Homo sapiens: one gene and its partners. The protein of the gene in region 1 interacts with the protein of each later gene in a pairwise test. Each region holds a gene or a part of one and is shown in the gene's direction. Other genes may lie near its edges.

Region 1 (7,539 bases):
CACCTGATCATTGTTTTATGGTGAGAACATCAAAAATCTACTCTTTCAGCAACCTTGAAATAAACAATACATTAGTATTAATCTGATGAACATCAAGCCAGATTGATGGGGGAAGCATGAGATAAAACACAAATTACCAATATCTGGAATTAAATAGTGAGAATTTATAGACACTGCAGATACTAAAATTCATGATAAGGATTATTATGAACAACTTTATTTCAGTATTTTTGCAACTTAGGTGAAGTGAACAAACTCCTTGAAAAATGCAACTTTCACACAAAATGAAATAGAACAACTGAATAGCATTGTGAGGTTTCTATAAGTAGAGGTAAGCAATTTGATGTAGAGGTCAGCAAATATACATATATTTGCGTGTGTGTGTGCATGTGTGTGTGTGTGTGTGTGTGTGTGTGTGTGTGTGTGTGTGTGTTTGAAATGGAGTCTCACTCTCACCCAAGCTGGAGTGCAATGGTGTGATCTCGGCTCACCGCAACATCTGCCTTCCAGGTTTCAGCAATTCTCATGCCTCAGCCTCCCGAAAAGCTAGGACTACAGGTGTTCGCCACTATGCCCAACTAATTTTTGTATTTTTAGTAGAGACAAGCCTTCAGCATATTAGCCAGGCTGGTCTCAACCTCCTGCCCTTAAGTGATCTGCCTGCCTGGGCCTCCCAAAGTGCTGGGATTACAGGCTTGAGCCACCGCGCCCAGACATTTTTTTTCCTAGTTAAAAACAAAACACAACTTTTTCACATGGGAGACTCCTGGAAGAGGTGGCCTCACTGGACTCCATCAAACATTTAAGGAATAAATAACACTAATCTTACAGAATTTCATGAAATAAAGAGGAAACATTTCCCAATTTAATTTATGAACAGTATTACTCCATTCTCACACTGTTATAAAGAAATATCTGAGACTGGATAATTTATAAAGGAAGGAGGTGTAATTGAGTCCCAGTTCCACATGGCTGGGGAGGCCTCAGGAAACTTACAATAATGGTGGAAGGGGAAGCAGGCACTTCTTACATGGGGGCAGGTGAGAGAGAGCGTGGGAAGGAGGAACTGTCACACACTTACAAAACCATTAGATTTCCTGAGAACGAACTCACTATCACAAGAACAGTATACGGGAAACTGCCCCCATGATCCAATCATCCAGGTCCCTCCCCTAACACGTGGGGATTTGGGGTTTATAATTTGAGATGAAGTTTGGGTGGGGACGCAGAGCTAAGTCATATTGTGAACCCAGTATGTAACTTGATACCAAAACCTAACAAGATCATTAGAAGAAAAGAAATTTACAGGAAATATTTCTCAAGAACATAGATGGGGGTGGAAATCCATTTGCTAATCCTATCAACTAACTGAATAAAACAATTTACATAAAGGATAATGTAGAGTGACCAAGTTATTCAATATGATTGATCATGTTGTAGGGTCACCCAGATCATCCCTCCACTTCCTTCTTTGCCTTGGGAAACAGATTACCTTGACCACCCTGTGGCCCAGCCAGCTGTGTGTTTCCCCTGCAGCTTGAACCCGAGCTGACCCTTGAACATTCCCAGGCACTGTTAAAAGTTATTTAGGTTGTTGCCCAAAACAGTGAAAATCAACCAAGTTGCTGCACGTGGATACTAGCTCTGGCCCTGAGCCAAATTTCTTAAGGCCTCATGTAAACTCTTATAACCTGTCGCACAAATGTTAAAAGCAACAAGACAACTGCTATAGCAGAGATGCGTGCAAAGTGCTCTGGGAGGAGCCACATCTCCACATGAGGCAGTTGAACGACGTTTCAGCTGAGTCTTGACATGTGAGTTCATCCAGGAAACGAATAGCAGAAGAGCATTTGACCAAGAAAATAGTACCTACGAAGCTTGAAGGATGGCTGGAGCTTAGGGTTTGTGAGACAGAACATCAGGAAGTGAGCCCAGAAAGGTAAATTGGCACCAGGTTAGGGAAGGTCATATTTGCCAAGGTAGAAAGTTTGCATTCCATAAGTGGAAGGCGACAAAAAGCAGGTTTGTATTTTAGGAAAATGATTCTGGCAGCCTAGGTGGATGTTGTAAGGTAAGAGCATAGTATTATGCAAAATAAACTACCGTGTTGTTGTCGGTTTTTTTTTTTATCATGGCCTTTCATGATGTCTATTTCTTTTTCTCTATTCCCAATGTTCCTTTCTTCTGGTGATGATATGCTATAGAAATTGTCACGGGTGATTAGCAACTATCTGGGGCTGGTGGCATGGGGGTAAGAAGAATTTATCAAGATAGTTGTAGGTAAAGAAAGGCAGATATATTAGAGAACGTATGAAAATACGTTGCAAGGAAGCAATGGGCAGCACAGCAGAGAAGGGGCTGTCTGCAAGGAGACAAAGGCGTGCTGGAGATTTTACAGGATGGTGCTTGTACTGTGTGCTGAAGAGGGTTTGTGTGGTACTGATAACACTAAGGTTGCAGTGAGCTAAGTTACATTTTTCTATCAGCTGAAGGTCTGGTGATAGCTGGGTGCAGGAATATTGTGCAGGAGGGCTATGTGTCCTGGACCATGAAGAAGGTGAGTCTTATACATTACCTGCTTTCTTTCTTTGTTTTTTGTTTTTTGGTTTTTTTTATTTATTTATCACATTGTGCAGGTTAGTTATATATGTATACATGTGCCATACTGGTGCGCTGCACCCACTAACTTGCTTTCCTCTGGTCCTGCCAGCCTGACTTCTTTTCCCTAAGGAGGACTCCACAGAAATGAATTCTGGGTGATTTCTATATTCTACGATGGAGACTATAGCTATAGATCATTATACAACACTACCTAATTAATCAAGACCAAAATAAATAGTCCTACCTGCAGGACAATAACCAGTAACAAATAATTTACAATTAGAAATTAGTTCCAGACAGAAGGAAATATTTCTTATTTTACCTGCACTTACATGACTGCATTTTAGCTAACTGGAGCCTGTGATGGACAACCAAAACATGGGTTTTCTTCACAGATATTTTTCTTTTGACTCATTAGGTTACTGTGAAAAGATAATTTTCTTTCAGAGATTTGTAATTTTTCAGAAGTGTTTTTGAATCCTTGAACTCATATTTGTTGCAGAGCAGCGTCAATATACCATGAGACACTCTAAGAACTTTTTGCATAAGTGTTGATGTGTAAAGAGAATCACTAAATTCAAACCCAGCTCTGCCCAGGGAGTAATAAATCCTAAGAGACTATTTTAACTCACTTACATATGTTCTTCTGGTTTGGTTTGGTTTGGTTTCTACTATCAGGTACCTAGGAAGTAGCACTCAAGATTAGGAGAAAAAATAAGTTTATTCTGGATCAAAAATTTTTTAACTTTTTCAGATTAATCTGTTTTTTTCCTATAATGTTCTTAAAAATTCTAGAGACAATTTTCTCTATGCACCTTTGAAAATGAAATAAATGTAACGACTAAAACCAAGCAAAGTGAAATAGATTATCCTTCACAATGGAGGTGAAATCCAAGAGATAATTCAAAAAAATTACGTATCTCAAGTTCCTGTCTGTCAGATTTGGCACCAGAGATTTCATCCAGTGGAATTACTGATTTGGAACCTAAATAGAATTTTATTTTCCAAGTTCCAGTATTTTCAATTTTCATGAAATTCAGGCCTTCATAAATAAATAAATAGGAGAAAACAGGCTCTACATCTCAGAAGAAAAGATTCCTGTGGGTTCCTTGCCCCTACTCTGAAGTATAATCATTAAGGAATTCCCAAGGGACTAAAAGGTTATAACTTAGAATTTATATTTCACTCTTATTAGGAATACAGGTAAAATAGTATAACTTATCTAACAATAAGCAATGAGAAATGTGGAGAAGGCAAGTTTCAGGAAATCAAAGATCATAATTCCAGCTCTAACCAATTTATATTTTAGCCTGCAGAAAAACAAGTTATTCCTATCAGTTATGTAAAGTGACTTTTCCATTTGTACGCAGGTAGACATGGTTTGCACACACACACACACTTTAAACCCAATATATAGCTCACTCCTCCAGTCTTTATCAGCACATGCTCTGAGATCACAAAAAGCATTGAAAGATTACTAATCACACTGACCATTTTTATGGTGGTGGCACAAACAAATAATTGTCATTTTGTGAGCTGTAATACTAATTTTAAAAGGGGACACAAGCAATCAATCCACAGAATCAAAATCTGTGGACATATTATTTTCCTGATTTGTAATGAGTTGTATCTATAATTATTCATTGGCCAAATTTTCTCTTTCTTTTATTATTCTGTCAAAAGCACAATGCTTCCTATGACGATTTTCTGAAATAAGTGTTTTGTCTTGCACATGGAAATGGTGTGGGTCCTGCTTTGGTAACCTAAAGTTATCCCTATTTTATGAGGCATAAAACTCTTCCTCAGTAAATAAACAACTCTAATGAGATGTTTGTACGAAAACTGGCACCATCAGTGATAAAGAAAACATCCGGTGCAGTCTGTAAACACCCATTTTGGGGGGTTATAAAACTCTCAGGAGAGGAGAGTTTTGGAGTCAAGGCAACTGAAGTTTTGCAGCCAGTCTCTGTCTTTGCTTCTGGAAGGATGACTTCTGACTGCTCCTCCACACACTGCTCTCCTGAGTCCTGTGGCACGGCTTCCGGTTGTGCACCTGCCTCAAGCTGCTCCGTGGAAACAGCTTGTCTCCCCGGTACCTGTGCTACATCCCGATGTCAGACTCCAAGCTTCCTATCCAGGTCTCGCGGGCTGACTGGTTGCCTCCTGCCATGCTACTTTACTGGGAGTTGTAATAGTCCCTGCTTGGTGGGGAACTGTGCCTGGTGTGAGGATGGGGTGTTCACTAGCAATGAGAAGGAGACGATGCAGTTCCTGAATGACAGACTCGCCAGCTATCTGGAGAAGGTGCGCAGCCTGGAGGAGACCAACGCAGAGCTGGAATCCAGGATCCAAGAACAATGTGAACAGGATATCCCAATGGTGTGCCCGGATTATCAGCGTTACTTCAACACCATTGAAGATCTCCAACAAAAGGTCTGTGTCCTGTTGCCCTAGTGCTCCACCTTCCTGATCTATGGTTTGCTTTATCTTTCTACTAGAAGGGGCTGTTTTACAGAAGGAAACCAAGGGAAAGGAAAATTCTAAGAGTTAGTGATACATAGGGGAGAGCACCGGACTGAAAGTCAGAAAACCTCAGCATCAGCCCCAGAGCTACCCCTGATTACTGAGTGACTATAATAAAGTAACTTGCCTGTAGACTTTTCCTTCATCATCTATAGAATGCAGAAAAACTGTATTATATCCAAAATCGCTTTTGTACGTGACACTGAACATTTACATTATCTGAACACAGATCATGAAATGCCATCTTTTTAACTACCTAGTAATCATTTTCTTCTCTCCATGAATTTCTATTATTATGGGAGAGGATATACTCATAATACAAACTACTGATGGAGAAAACATTAATGGTGTTCAACTGCCTGAGAATGTTGCAAAATGTCTTATGTTATTAAAAAACTAAACCTTTTTATTTCATTATTTTGTTTCTAAATTGGCTCTGCTTTTTTTCTTCATGAAGTGACAAGGTTAATAAAAAAAAGCAGGCTGAGGGTGATTTTATACTTTCTTATAAAGACTTTCAAAAGATAGCTAATGGCATAGCTGTTGGATAGAAGTTTACTTAGGTTTCTCTCAAAGAATCATTTATCACATAATGACTTGCTTCCCAGATCTTATGCACGAAAGCAGAGAATTCTAGACTTGCTGTACAGCTTGACAACTGCAAACTGGCCACTGATGACTTTAAGTCAAAGTAAGTTTAATTTAATTTTATTTTATTTATTTATTTTGAGATGGAGTTTCACTCTTGTCACCCAGGCTAGAGCTCAATGGTGCTATCTCAGCTCACTGCAACCTCTGCCTCCTGGGTTCAAGTGGTTCTCCTGCCTCAGCCTCCTGAGTAGCCGGGATTACAGGCAGGCGTGCACCGCCACACCTAGCTAATTTTTGTATTTTTAGTAGAGACAGGGTTTCACCATGTGGGCCAGGTTGGTCTCGAACTCCTGACCTCAGGTGATCTGCCCGCCTTGGCCTCCCAAAGTGCTGGGATTACAGGCATGAGCCACCACGCCCGGCTTTAATTTTAATTTGAAAATAACTTATGGCTCTCTCTCTCTCAATCTCTCTCTCTCACACACACACACACACACAAATATTCTCTATATAATATTTTAAAGTTAAGAATGTTTTAAAAGCTTGAATTTATCATTACTTAGGAATTAAGAGAAATTATGCACATGGCTTCCTGAAGTCCGTGTGTCGATCCTCCATGTATCCCCACACTTTGCACAGCGTTCAGCAAAGTAAGCGTTGGATTTCTCTTTTGCTGTGAAAGGTACGAGAGTGAACTGTCCCTTCGCCAGCTGTTAGAGGCTGACATCAGCAGCCTGCATGGGATCCTGGAGGAACTGACCCTGTGCAAATCTGATCTGGAGGCCCATGTGGAGTCTCTGAAGGAAGATCTCCTTTGCCTTAAGAAAAACCATGAAGAGGTAAGGAAAGTGGCAACTCCGCTGAAGGACTCCGAGAGTAACGTACTTACATTGACAGATGATCTGTTGATGTTTGTAAATCGAATTTGGGCAGATGTTGTTTAAGCTGGAATAAAACTACTTGAGGCAGGGCCAGGCATGGTGGCTCACACCTGTAATCCAAGCACTTTGGGAGGCTGAGGCAGGAGGATCACAAGGTCAGGAGTTCGAGACCAGCCTGACCAATATGATGAAACCTCATCTCTACTAAAAATACAAAAATTAGCTGGGCATGGTGGCAGGCGCCTGTAGTCCTAGCTACTCGGGAGGCTGAGGCAGGAGAATCACTTGAACTCAGGAGGCGGAGGTTGCAGTGAGCCGAGATCTTACCACTGCACTCCAGCCTGGGTGACAGGGCGAGACTCCATCTCAAAAAACAAACAAACAAACAAACAAACAAAAACTACTCGAGGCATTATTACTATTCAACCTGATCATTCCAGTGTGTCTCTGATTTAAGGTGTGAAATAACCCCTAGACAGCGCCAGAGGAAGGAATCAAACTCTTCTCCTGCCCTTGCCTTTGTGGAGGAGGTAACTTCACAAATGGCTTCCTTTGGAGGCTTTATGCCACCCCTAGCTCCAGTCCACAGGGTATGAAAATCAGGCTGAGGAACAGACTGTGAAGTCCATTTCAAAAAAGGGATAAAGACTGTGCACTATCTGGACCAGTGTTTTTAAATATTCCGCATTTATAAACTTCTAAAAATCATAAAATATACAGCCACTGATATATTGATAAAGCTAGAAAATGAAAAGCTGAATGATGTAACAAAGTACATTTGCTCTTTGAACGTTTGTTGATGACAATCATAGCTAACATTTATTGACACCTTACTATGTGTCATAATTAACTTTTATAAGTTAATTATGTGTAGATTGACTCTTCTAGATCTCACAATAACTTTCTGGAAAAATGTCCAATTATTATGTCCATTTTACAGACG
Region 2 (7,000 bases), on another chromosome or scaffold:
GGGATTACAGGCGTGAGCCACTGCGCCTGGCCTGTCCTTTCCATTTTTCTATTGGGTTGTCGATATTTTTCCCTATTCATTTGTATATACTTTATATCAGGGAAATTAGCCCTTTTCATTTGAATAATATTATTTCTTAATTGGCTGTTTGTCTTAAGACATTTTTATGGTGGCATTTGCTGTGCAGAGAAGGTGGTTATTTTTATACAATTGAATTTATAACCTTTTATGATTTTTAGGTTTATGTAATATCTTGGCCTTTCCACTCTGCGATATTTAATATTAAACAACCCCCCTCCCCAACTTTCTTCTAGTTTTTTTTCTTTTTTTACATTTAAGTCTTTGATACATAAGATACTTATTATGGTGTTAAAGTACATCTTACTTTCTTCTCTTTCCTCTATGGGTACTTAATTTGGGTCTTAAACTGTTCATTTAATTATTTTGGAAATAGTCACTATTTACTTTGCACAACTTTGATTTGAGATAAAATTTTAAAATGTTTATTTCATAAATAATTTCCTTTGTGTATTTAAGCTTATTATCTGAAGAAGACACAGCAGTAGACTGAGGTATGTGACATATGCAGTATTTTATTACATAATATGTGGAATACAGCATATTAGCTTAGCATGCTAAATTAGAATTATGTGCAGATTATGGGCAAAAGTAGTAATTTTGAATATTCTGAATAGTACTATTGTTATAAATATGCCAATGAATTTAGAGTTTACTAAATGGGAATGTTTGTACACATATAAATGTAGTTCACAATTACAAATTCTGGATAAACTACATTTGTGGATTAGTCCTTTACTAGCAAATCTGGAGATGGCTGCATCTGTTAACCATAAATGAAGAGTGTTTTTATTGTTACATTTATTATTTATTTATTTATTTTTCGAGATGGAGTTTCACTCTTGTTGCCCAGGCTGCAGTGCAATGACGTGATCTCGGCTCACTGCAACCTCCGCCTCCCAGGTTCAAGCAATTCTCCTGCCTCAGCCTCCCAAGTAGCTGGGATTACAGGCATTTGCCACCATGCCCGGCTCATTTTGTATTTTTAGTAGAGAGGTGGTTTCACCACATTGGCCAGGCTGTTCTCAAACTTCTGACCTCAGGTGATCCGCCCACCTTGGCCTCCCAAAGTGCTGGGATTACAAGCATCAGCCACCGTGCCCAGCCTGTTACATTTATTTTTAATCACTTACTAAGTTGGAGCTTCGGATTTCTAAAAGGGATAATTAGATGACTATAAATACTGTACCAGATCTGGTTAATTGTGTGTTCAGTTATATGTATAGTGAGAATATGCTTGTTCCATTTTCACCTAGTTTAGGAAATTTAATATAAATTAAGGGACTGTAATTCCAGAAGTAGTAGAAGTGCTGCAAACAGATATTGTAAGCAGACATTTTAGAAGGGGATTCCACTTTAAATTGGATTGCTTGAGCCCAGGAGTTCGAGACCCGCCTGGGCAACGTGGTGAAATCCTATCTCCACAAAAAATACAAGATTAGCCCGACGTGATGGTGCATGCCTGTGGTCCTAGCTGCCTGGGAGGCTGAGGTGAGGGGATCACTTGGGCCCAGGAGGTCAAGGCTGCAGTGAACTGTGACTCCAGCCTGGGTGATAGAGGGAAACCCTGTCTCCAAAAACAAACAAACAAAGTCGTAGCAGAGTACTTTGATTGTAGAAGTAATCTCTGACCTGAGAGGTTCTGTAGTGATTATTTTTGCTGCCCTTTCTCTAGGCTGCTCTTAAAATGGGGCAGTGAATTTTATAAATCAGAACTAAATATGTTTTAAAGCATCTTGCTATAATGCCTCAGCACTGCGAAAAAATACTGGTATTTCTAAAAGAATTTAGAGTTACAAATATAGCAACTGAAAAAAATCTTCAAAAACATTTTCTGTTTCCACTAATAACATTAGTTTGAGATGTTTAGAAAGCATAAAGGATTAAACATGATTTTGTTTTAGTTGTTGATTTTGAGAATGAGGGCTTTGTGTTTTCCACTGAGGGATTTGGGTGCATTTGAAAAGATCTTAATGTTATTCTCATAACAGCGACTTTTGGGTAATGTAAATAAGATAACAAATTGTTATGTTTAGTTTAAACTCATGATACTTAAGCACTGTTTACTCATTGTCATTAACTATTCCAACCTTAAATTAAAAATGCTTACCTTAATTAAAGCTGTATTCAGACAACTTCCTATGGTTATCCCTGCGTTGAATTTCTTGTGCTTCTTGAAGGAGGATTACAATAAAGAAACCCTTCTTTTATAGTTTTTGATTTCAACCCTCACCCTGCAGCAAGTTTATTCAGAACATTATGTTGATTTGAATTGCTGAATTTTATTGTAATACCAAAGCAGAGTGGTTTGGTGGGTCTTTTGGTGCATAATGAGTCCAGGAACTTTAGGTGATGAGTAAAGGATTTTAATTAGTTTTTTAATAAGGATGGTGTAATGATTATATATACTTATGGTACATCATATGCATTGTTCAAATTAAAAATGATTAGTTCAGGAAGTAGACTTTGCTCAGCAGTTGCCTTATTTAGTTTGGAAAACATTTATGGAACACATAGGCTCAATAATGGATTAATTAGGTCCTCTTCGAAGAAATGGATAATTCCAAGTTGAAAGCAGAAAGTGTGGAGGATGAACTTGGAGTGCCCTTGTCATGCTGGAGTGTAAAGAGGCTGTCAAAGATTAGGACTCTGGAGCCAACTCCAAGAGGCTCTCAGTTGCCCAAAGATGGGACAGTTTGATCATCAGTAAGAATAGCAACTGTAGTGCACTGAAATCCTTAAATCCATGAGTTTGTAATGATGACCAAAAGAATAAAAACAACTCTTGACTTTTGGAGGATGCTAGGAAAGTGATGCATTCTTTCAAGATCAGGAAAATAAAGGGAAATAATAAAACATTTATTGTGCATTTCCTGTGAGAACTGTATCTCAAGGTAGCCAAATAGCTGATAAGAGGAAGTGTCTGTTTTAGTTATACTTTACTGCCACTAATAGATGAAGAAGGGATGATGTAATTAGTATATCATGTATTCTGTCCCAGCTAATATATGAAGAAGGGGTGATAGAGTTAGTATATCATAACTTTACAGCTCCTAATGAATTAATGAATCTAGAGTCTATAGACATGATTGTCAGAGGCTACTAATGTCTCAAAAAGAAAGACAAGCTGGCATAATATATCTTGTGGTGGAAATACTTATTACCACCTATTAATAGTCTTGCCAAAATAATCACCCTTTAGCTATAACCATGATTTTGTTTATTGTCATACAATAATTTTGATTATTGTCATACAGGGAACAAAGGAAGATAGGGATGCAATCAGCAAAATTCTGATTGTGGAAATCTATGGAAAAATGAAATGGTTTCTTAAAAATTATAAATTGTAAGAAAAGGAAAAAGAGGAGAAACCTATGGATTACAAGAGATTTAAGAGATTAAAATGCATACTAGCCAATTGCCGTGATGGACTTTATTTAGATCCTGATTAACTACTTGTAAAAAGTAAAAGTTTATGAAACAATCGAGGAAATATAATCATCAGCTGGATACTTGATGATATCGAATTATTTGAAACATTTAAATGTGACAGTGGTAGTAATGTGGCTGTGTTTATAAAGAGTCTTTATCCTTCATTTTATTTTTTGGAGATGAAGTCTCACTCTGTTGCCCCAGCTGGAGTGCAGTGGTGTGATCTCTGCTCACTGCAACCTCCGCCTCCCGGGTTCAAGTGATTCTCCTGGCTCAGCCTACCGAGTAGTTGGGATTACAGCTGCCCGCCACCATGCCTGGCTAATTTTTGTATTTTTGGTAGAGACAGGGTTTTGCCATGTTGGCCAGGCTGGTGTTGAACTCCTGACCTCAGGTGATCCACCTGCCTTGGCCTCCCAACGTGCTGGGATTACAGGCATGAGCCACCTCGCCCAGCTGAGTCTTTATCTTTCAAAGAAATATTTTGGAGTCTGGGATTTCCTTCAAAATAATCTTTGGGTGGGTGGGGATAGTAAGTTGGGGGTATAGTTGCAATAGGATTGGTCTTGAGTTAGTAACTGCATTTGGGGCTGGGTACAGTGGCTCATGCCTGTAATCTCAGCACTTTGGGAGGCCGAGGTGGGCAGATCGCTTGAGGTCAGGAGTTCGAGACCAGCCTGGCCAACATGGTAAAACCTTGTCTCTACTAAAAGTACAAAAATTAGCTGGGCATGGTCATTTGTAGTCTCAGCTACTAGGGAGGCTGAGGCAGGAGAATTGCTTGAACCTGGGAGGCGGAGGTTGCAGTGAGCTGAGATCATGCCATTGCACTCCAGCCTGGGCAACAGAGCAAGACTCCATCAAAAAAAAAAAAATTGCGGCTGGGTGGTTCATGATGCTTATTCACTTTTGTGATACTGTTGTATTTAGCGTATGTCCTAAAATTTCTGTACTGTAATTAGAAAGAGCTAGTCACAGCCTTCAAGAATTTTAAGAGCTAGATATAAAAAATAAATGAATATGGCATGTTAACAGTTATTATAGAAGTCGGTATAAATTGCTGTGGGGGCACATAGAGTGTAGAGTGAGCCCATAAAAAGGTTGAAAGGTAGAGTGTGAGCTTGGGCCAGAAAGACAATTTCAGTGGCTTTCCAAGCAAAAGAAGAGCAAATGCAGTGGTATGGAGCTGTGAAATTATACAGCTGAGGGAGCATCAGATTTGGAAACTAATTCTGGTTTTATGGTAGAGGATGGCACAGATGAGGCATAGACAAATCTTCAAATAAGAATTCTATTGAAAATAGGGAGTTAGAGGGCGTGCAGCTTGGGGATTGTGGTAAAGGAAGGTTTTCATTCATTCTTTTTTTTTTTTATTTTTGAGAATAAGTCTCCCTCTTGTCGCTCAGGCTGGAGTGCAGTGGCGCAATCTTGGCCCACTGCAACCTCTGCCTCTCGGGTTCAAGAGATTCTCTTGCCTCAGCCTCCCGAGTAGCTGGTACTACAGGCTCCTGTCACCATGCCTGGCTAAGTTTTGTGTTTTTAGTAGAGATGGGGTTTCACCATGTTTGCCAGGCTGGTCTTGTACTCCTGACCTCGGGCGATCCACCCACCTCGGCCTCCCTAATTGTTGAGATTATAGGCGTGAGCCACTGCCCCCGGCCTCATTCTTTTTTTTTTTTAAACCTTGAATTAAAATTTAAATTACTTGACAAGTTTAGATCACTGTTCAGAGAGAACTGACTAGTCATGAAAGTTTCATCTTCAGAAATTATCCTATTAGTGAGTTTATAAGTTCATCTTTCTGCTTCTCCCTTCCTCTCTAGAATTAGCTAATAGCCAGCAAAATTTTGATTTTATCAGCCCTGTTTAACTTATGTTTGTATCTTTGGTAAACTAGATCCAAGAATAATAGATTTGAACGTTATAACATGTATTGTTTCATCACTATCATATGGAAACTTTTACTGTCCTGTTACAGTTTTGCAAATGTTTGTCCTGCCACCTAAAGGATACAGCATATTATTGAAATTTCCACCTGCACGTGCTTATTTATGCAAAGGAAGTCAAATTGATTTCTGTGGGGAATTTGCCTAAAAATGGATGGTTGAAATGTGCTGCCTGAAATTATAAATGGAACAATAGGATATAATACTCATTGCCTTATTTTCCTTAATCATAATACAATTAAAAGCTTTATATAGCTTTTATATCATTAGAAAAGATAATGTCTCTTCCAGGCTTAAAAATGTAGCCCCAAAACACAAGAATAAATTGGATTGTTTGTAGTCACACAAACAGTTTTGTCTGTTGGCTTTGTTTTATTGTCAGAAATCCTAAATATTGTTGACATTGACTTATTTTCAAATGATACAGTCTCCAAGATGATATGCAGAAGATGAACTGATGTAGCTGAGTGACCAAAGGCACTGGCAAAGGATCGATGAGTTGTATTTTTATACAGATGCTCCTTGACTTATTATGGGGTTATGTCTTGGTAAACCCAGTTTAAGTTGAAAATATTGTAAGTCGAAATGCATTTAAGACACCTAACCTACACAACATCATAGCTTAGCCTAACCTTCTTTAAACATGCTCAGAACACTTAGCCTCCAGTTGGGCAAAATCATCTAACACAAAGCCTATTTTATAAGAAAGTATTGAATATCTCATGAATTCAATACCGAATACTCTATTGAAAGTGAAAAAACAGAATAGTTGTACGGGTACTCAAAGTACATACAGTTTCTGCTGAATGCATGTAGCTTTTGTACTGTTGTAAAGTCAAAAAATCCTAAGTCTAACCATCATAAGTTGGGGACTGTCTGTAATTGAATGGGACCTGGCCAGGTATCCTTGAGAGAGCGCAGGTGAATGTCTCAACCAGTTAGGATAAATGACTGTCCCACAAAAGTCATACATGTTCATTGTAGAAAACCAAATATAGGCTGGGCGTAGTGGCTCACGCCTGTAATCCCAACACTTTGGAAGGCCGAGGTGGGCGGATCACTTGAGGTCAGGAGTTCGAAACCAGCCTGGGCAACATGATGAAACCCTGTCTCCACTAAAAATACAAAAATTAGCCAGGCATGGTGGTGGGCACCTGTAGTCTCAGCTACTCGGGAGGCTGAGGCAGGACAATGGCGTGAACCTGGGAGGCGGAATTTGCATTGAGCCGAGATCGCGCCACTGCACTCCAGCCTGGGCGATGGAGCGAGGCTCTGTCTCAACAGCAACAAAAAAAATTATAAGTAATTTGAAATTATTTGAGCACATACAAATGTCCCAATTAGAAGTACTCAGTAAATGCTAGTGAGTTACTTAGAAAGAAACTGCTTGTGAGAAATCCATGTGCTGATAGCCAAGATTTATTGAGCATGTATTTCCCAGGCATTGTTCTAAGTGCTAGTAACTCAATCCTCACCGCAACCCTAAGAAGTAGGTACTATTGCCATCATTTCAGATGCAAGTTAAATAATTTACCTGCCCAAGA
Region 3 (7,000 bases), on another chromosome or scaffold:
ATTTTTTGCCCTTTAGCTTGTCAAAATAATGTCTAAAAAACCAGATTGATCACAAAAGATGCATCATAATGCCACATAAAGATGTCACTCGGCGCCTTATAGTATTTAGGACCATAGAGGACACCTGGTGCAGCCTCCTCATTTTGCAGCTGAGCAAGATCTTTGAAGGACAAGGACCTGCCCAAGGCCATCTAGAAACACTGAAGTTGAGACTCATACCCGAGCATCTTAGCTTTTGCCCACCCCACGCTGTTTCTCAGTCTTAACCAGCAAGCTTTCCTTGTTATTTTGGTTTGTCTTACGTCTAGGTTTGATTTGGCAGCACATTTCAACATCTGGTGAAGGCATGGGAATAAAACAGTGTAGGTGGATGGAGCACCTAAGAGCAGAATGTTTGGTGTTCTCTCAGGGTACACTGGGCAAGGCCTGCTGGGCCGTCCTTCCTCGCCATGCTGCCTGCGTTTATTCAGTTAAGAAAGTGGCACATTTTGTATCTTTGAGAATGCAACTATTTTAGTTAGGAGAGTGATGTTCCGTCTATGGAAGACTTTGCCTCTCTCCATCTTGGGCTTGGAGAAGGTGTCCCATGTCCCAGCAGCATGGCTGTGTACAGTCATTGATTCTTTTGTTTACTTCTCCATGCCGTACATTTTGTTCCTGTCCCTTGATCACAAAGAAATAAATGAACGTTCCTGAGGCACTGACATGGGCCGGGTGAGGTGGGAGCCTCCTTCTAGATATTATTATCCTATTTAAATGCATTATGTTCCCACTCATTTCACGATTGCCCAGTATTCAGAGAAGTTGCATTACACAACTGAAGCTCCATAATAAATGCGTGGAGGTGAGATTCAAACCCACGTCTTTCCCATTCTACTTTTTGTGCCTTTCTGTTTTAATTTGCTTCTTGGTATTCCTGTGTATTATTAATAGTCTGAAGCTTGGAAATAGATGCAATAGTCATTAGAGTGAAGAAAATACAGTGCCGTGCTCTCTGAAGGATAACAAGGACATTTTTGTTGTAATTACTATTTTGATTTTTCTTTTAAGAATGTTGCCGAGGAAGGAAAACAGAGGGAAAAACCAGCAAAGCTCACTGTGTCTAACTTTTGCCACATGCATGGACCTAATTTCTTACTTGCCAAGCACTAGAGCCTTTATTTTTGAGACTCTGTGAGGGTGGCTGAGTTCTGTGTGTTTGCTGGGGTTGGAAAAATCTAGTGTGATGGGGGTCAGTGGCCCCATGACACGCCAAGGCAGAGTAAGCCACAGAGCTCAGTCTGCCATAGGTGTGGCTTCCTTCCTTCCTCACATCTGTGTCAACACCCGGCAGGAGGTGCCTGATTCCAGTGGGGATGAAGCAGCCTCTGCCCATCCCTCCATCACCCATCAAGAGCTCTGGACACACATGAGGTTGAACCCCCAGATGGTGGCTGCCAGGGGAGTGTGTCCACCTCTCACTTAGGCCAGGTGCGTGGCATCTCACTGCGGCAGGCATCCCATGGGCGAGGTCGGTGCTCTCCTGATGTCTTTGATATTTTTCTTTATCTGGCCTAGTCTGAGACCAGTACTTTCCCCTGCCTGTGACCCCTGACTTCATTTGCAAAGTTTTCTCATGCACTTTCTGAAATTTTCATGACAGAGAGCCCTGGAGGAATTTGGGGCAACGATGGAGGTGGAAGAAGGTTTAAAGCTGGGAATCTTTATGCATTTTCTCTGTTTTCTCCTTCTCTTTATTTTTTTTCTTGACCTATACTTCACACTGGTCTCTGTCTTCTCCATGCTTAGAAAGCAGAGGAGGCTTGAGCTTCCAGCAAAGACCTTGCGACATGTTACTGGATACAGGCTGGTGCATAGAAGGGGTGGGTGGGGAGGGCTGACAGGAGGGTGTCCCTCCCCTGAGCATCACCGGCTCTGTTCTTGGCCAGTTGCTCTTTGTCCCCACATTTCAGGTTCTCTTCCTGCATTCAAGCATGGGCAGGGCCAGGGCTGCTGTTTCAGGACTGCATCTAGCCCTGAAGTTTTCTCTGGGCCTCCACAGGGGACCTTCCTACTCTGAACTCCACATGCATTCTCCAGGCCACACTGCACACTCACCCTACTCTCCAGTCATTTCCAACTACTTAGAATTCAGTCAGTGTTGAGAGTCACCAGTCTTATGTAGACTGGAGCCTGGCACATAGTAGGTGCTTTTTGCATGTTTACTGAGTGAATGAATGAACAGAAAATGAAATGCACTTTGCCTAAAAGCTGATCTGATCTGATCTGAGTGCCCAGGCATTTCACCCTTCTTCCAAAGCTCTCCTTTTGTTCCTGTGGCCCAGGGAATGCTCAGTTCCAGGCTTGGCAGAGGAGGGGTCTCTCTAGGCAGTGTGAAACAGACTGTGAAGCCCCCATGAGAAATAGTCCACCCACTGGGAAGGCCCCTCCGCTCCCAGGAAACTCCAGCCAGAGCACTCCAGCGTGGGGGCTAGGACTCCTCTTTTCCAAAGGAGAGTAGACAGTGGGAGGAATTCACCTCAGAATGATTTCCTGGAGCAGTTAGGAAAGTAGCATCTCTGAAGTCACAGAGGCTTCAGCTCCACTGGGCCGTGAGAATCCCTTACAGAATTCTGACCCCGACCAAGCAGAAAAGGGCACTGCCGCCTTTAAAACAGTTGACTGCAGAACAAAACAAAATGCTAAAATAAGACTAGAGTAGTTTGAAAATATTGGAAAGTTGAGAAAAAACTCCCCCAAATTCCATGATACTAGCATCATCATAGTATATAGCACATTACATATATAGTGTATTATATGGTATATTATGTATACATACTATGTATACTATATGTTATATGGTGTATGTACATAGTAAAAATTATTTTTCACATATCTATTGCTTTGGTATGTTTTCTTTCATGTTTTTGTTTATTTGGTAGATAGGCTTTTTTCCTGTTTTGTTTTACAACATGTTTATATCTGACACTAACATTGTATTATAAGCTTTTTTTTCCCATACTATTGCGTAGTCTTTATAGCCACACTTAAAAAATGAATCATTTATTTCTAAAAACAGTCAGGTCCATTTTATTTTGGCTTCTGGATCCTGCCCCTCCCCGGGCACTCTCCCACTGCAGAACTATGTTAGGCTCAGTTCCCCAGAGAGCCCTCAGGTTTTCCACACCACAGGCCCCATGCAAGCTTCTTGTGAACCCTGGGCAGTCCCTTCTGGGTCCTCAGAGCTCAGTTTAGATGCCACCATTGCCTGTTTGCAACACTGGCACATGTGCAGGTCCCTGTGTTCTGTACAGCTGAACTCAGGACTGCCTCATCACCACTGTCACTACCGCGCCTCGCACAGGGCCCGCATGCTGCATGCTCTCAGTGAATGCTTGCGGAATGAACGGAAGAGGGAATCAATGAACAAATGACCTGGTGGTCATTTTCTGTGTTTCCTCCTGGGGTTTTTCCTTTGGTGTATGCATTTTGTGTGTGTGTGTGCATAGAATAGGTTACACCAAATCTATAATCTTTTTGTCCTTTTGCCTCCTCAGCATTCGTTCATAAGCATAGCGAGCATCACTGTCCGAGGCTGCACAGTGCTTCGTCTTGCGTATGCATCCTGCTTTGTTCACCATGTCTCTGGAGTTACGCATTTACTTGCTTGTTGCTTTCACCACTATAAACCATGCCTCATTTCCCTCTCCTGTTAGGCAGATCTGACCCTTCAGCCTGCCTCTTCCAGCCATGGTCAGACTGTTGTTAGTCCAGCGCCTGAGGGAGAGTACTTTCAGAGTTCCAGGCCCTTGTGTGACCTCCACCCTTAAGGTGACTCTTGGCACCCACAGGCCAATCAGCTGTATTCTTAGAGAGCTCTCAGAATACAGGCTGGTGGGCTATTTCCCTAAGGAAAAGCTGGGTGGGTTCTCACTGGGGTTGGAACCAAGGGGAGATGAGGAAATGGGAATAGGTTGGACGCCCTTGGTGGAGCTTCATAGTTTGATTTTACATCAGAGTTGGAAAGCAAAGCATACCCTTCTGCTACAGCTAGTGGTTTCCCCACCTGCGCCTGAGCTATGGACTGGGCAGGGGCCAAGTGCCCAGCAAGGAGCACAGGGAAGGAGCAGGAGGTGGAGAAGCTCAGAGGCAGGCTGCAGTAGGCTCCTCGCCCTTCTCACCATGCGGATGTCTCCTCCCTTGGCCCTATGGGAATATGGAGGGCTCACATTCTCCTCTCTGTGCAGGAGCAGGTCTCCACACTCTTTGGGAGGAGGAAGTTGACTTCTTTCTAACAGTTGCTGTCCTGTCATTCATTCATTCATTCATTCATTCAGCAAAGGCTTCCTGAGCTCCTGTCCTGTTGCAGGCTTGATTAAGTACTACAGATGTGAAGGTGAATTGACATATTTGGGTTCTTAGAGTTTGCCTTCTAGCAGACCACAAACAAGTAAATATAATGTTGCACGTGGTGCATGCAGGCCTTTGGTGCCCAGGACAGTGAGGGCATGGAGGAGGGAGTGTTGTCTGTGTCTGAGAGCACTGGGCAAGCCTCAAGGGGAGACTGTGCCTGAGGTGCATTTTGGAATGAGTTCACAGGTACGATGGGAATGAAGCTGCCCACATGTACTTGGGAGTTGGGGGAAGAGTGGGGACACTTGACTCTCACAAGAAGCATGGCTCTGAGAAAATCAGAGACCGCGCAGAAGCTGACAGGGCATGTGATGTGGACAAAGGGGCCACCAGGCTGGGAGGCAGGTCTGGTAGACCGAGGAGCAATGGGTTGAAATTAGGGTCGGGACAGAGAGGGCTGCATGAGGAGCAAAGACCATGAAGTCCATGGTCCTCCAACACTGCGACCCTCATGCTGCGGCCTCCCTGTGCCCTCAGCACTCAGCCAGGGCCAGAGGTAGCTCGAGCATGGAGCAGGGGCTGAGGGTGCATGGCTTCCTCATGATGGAGTCTACTTGTTGACAGATGACCCAGAAACTTCTGAAGGGCCCCCAAGGCCCTAATGCAGCCCCCAGAGCAGGCTCTTTCCCTTCCCCTGCAGACTCTCCATTTCATGCCTGGTTAATCCCCAGGAACCACTTTTGACAGGGGAATCCTACGTTTCTCTCTACTGAGCTGTAGAGGCTGCTGCCCATGGGCATTTTCAGCAGAGACCTCAGTCCCTACTCTGCCTCAGGGAGGTGGGCCCTGGAGGATGGTGCCATCCATGCTCCTTGTCTCCTGAGAGGTGGTGCAGTCAGCACACCCATCCCACAGACAGCGGAGGAGGCCTGAGCATCAGGGTCCTGTCTGATGCCAGCTCATGATGCACTGTGCCTGAGTGATGAATGCCCATCTCACTGCCTGTCGCTTCCTCTCTCTGCAGGGCCCTGTGGCCGAGTGTGTCCAGCCCAGTGTCATGGGGAGCTTCCATATCTCATGGCTCCTTGCTGGGCCAAGCCCTCCAGAACCCCAAACCCCCAAAGACTGATGAATGCCAGAGTGGCCACCTTGCTTATCTGTGGCCCCGGCCCTGGTGATCACCATGGCAGCTGGGAAGGGAGCCCCGTTGAGCCCATCGGCTGAAAACAGATGGCGACTTAGCGAACCTGAGCTGGGCCGGGGCTGCAAGCCAGTGCTGCTCGAGAAGACGAACCGCCTGGGCCCTGAGGCTGCTGTGGGCAGGGCGGGCCGGGATGTGGGCAGTGCGGAGCTGGCACTGTTGGTAGCCCCAGGCAAGCCCCGACCTGGCAAGCCGCTGCCCCCGAAGACACGTGGAGAGCAGAGGCAGAGCGCCTTCACGGAGCTGCCGAGGATGAAGGACCGGCAGGTGGATGCTCAGGCCCAGGAGAGGGAGCACGATGACCCCACAGGCCAACCTGGTGCCCCACAGCTGACCCAGAACATCCCCAGAGGCCCAGCTGGCAGCAAAGTCTTCTCTGTGTGGCCCAGCGGAGCACGAAGTGAGCAAAGAAGCGCCTTTAGCAAACCAACCAAGCGACCAGCAGAGAGGCCTGAGCTAACCTCAGTCTTCCCTGCAGGGGAATCTGCAGATGCCCTGGGGGAGCTGTCTGGACTCCTCAACACTACAGACCTCGCTTGTTGGGGTCGACTTTCAACTCCCAAGCTTTTGGTTGGTGATTTGTGGAACTTGCAAGCATTGCCACAGAATGCTCCACTCTGTAGCACTTTTCTGGGTGCCCCTACACTGTGGCTGGAGCATACCCAGGCCCAGGTGCCCCCACCCTCATCATCCTCCACCACTTCGTGGGCCCTCCTGCCACCCACCCTCACCTCCCTGGGCTTGTCCACCCAGAACTGGTGTGCAAAGTGCAACCTGTCCTTTCGCCTAACGTCCGACCTGGTCTTTCACATGCGATCCCACCACAAAAAGGAGCATGCGGGGCCTGACCCACATTCTCAGAAGCGGAGAGAAGAGGCCCTTGCCTGCCCTGTGTGCCAGGAGCACTTCCGGGAGCGCCACCACCTCTCCCGGCACATGACTTCTCACAGCTAGCAGGTGACCGCAGAATGACCTGCTGGGTGCAGCAGCCAGCCTTTGGCAGAGGGGGGCTCCCTGGGCCTGCGTTGAGGGGGCTGTCATGGTCCTTTGCAGAGCTGCTGCTTTTGGCATTCATAGATAAACAGCTCAGGCATAATTTGAAAAAGCCACACCTGCATGATGTGTTTTGAAGGAAATGAAGTCCTGAAATAAAGTGATGGGCTTTGCAAATCCAGGGTAGAGGCCCTAACAGGCACAGAGAGCAGGGGCAACTCCTGGCACACATCATGGGCTTTGGAGGCACACAAGCCTGGATTCGAATCTGGGCTCTTTCACATACTAGCTGTGACCCTGGACAAAGAGCTTTAACCTGCTGAGTCCCCATTTTCTCATCTGTGAAATGGAGATGATAACACTGTGTCTTAGGTTGGCATTCAGGTCACATGAAAGGTGTGTGGAAAGTGGCCAGCATTCTGCCTGCAGACCCTGAGCACTGAGTCAACAAGGTTTGTGATGATGTCTGTACTA

What was found.
Region 2: the proteins of KRT40 (region 1) and UACA interact in binary tests that used the Homo sapiens proteins (3 or more experiments, as listed by UniProt).
Region 3: the proteins of KRT40 (region 1) and ZNF488 interact in binary tests that used the Homo sapiens proteins (3 or more experiments, as listed by UniProt).

Annotation. Positions count from the first base shown.
Region 1 is NC_000017.11:40,981,322-40,988,860, reverse strand, and holds the start of KRT40 (keratin, type I cytoskeletal 40), read left to right. Parts: upstream 1-4,534; 5' UTR 4,535-4,587; coding exon 4,588-5,034; exon of another isoform or gene 5,035-5,732; coding exon 5,733-5,815; exon of another isoform or gene 5,816-6,397; coding exon 6,398-6,554; intron 6,555-6,881; exon of another isoform or gene 6,882-7,536; coding exon of another isoform or gene 7,537-7,539. UniProt on the Homo sapiens protein: May play a role in late hair differentiation.
Region 2 is NC_000015.10:70,753,559-70,760,558, reverse strand, and holds part of UACA (uveal autoantigen with coiled-coil domains and ankyrin repeats), read left to right. Parts: intron 1-7,000. UniProt on the Homo sapiens protein: Regulates APAF1 expression and plays an important role in the regulation of stress-induced apoptosis. Promotes apoptosis by regulating three pathways, apoptosome up-regulation, LGALS3/galectin-3 down-regulation and NF-kappa-B inactivation.
Region 3 is NC_000010.11:47,367,294-47,374,293, reverse strand, and holds part of ZNF488 (zinc finger protein 488), read left to right. Parts: intron 1-5,356; 5' UTR 5,357-5,464; coding exon 5,465-6,487; 3' UTR 6,488-7,000. UniProt on the Homo sapiens protein: Transcriptional repressor. Plays a role in oligodendrocyte differentiation, together with OLIG2. Mediates Notch signaling-activated formation of oligodendrocyte precursors.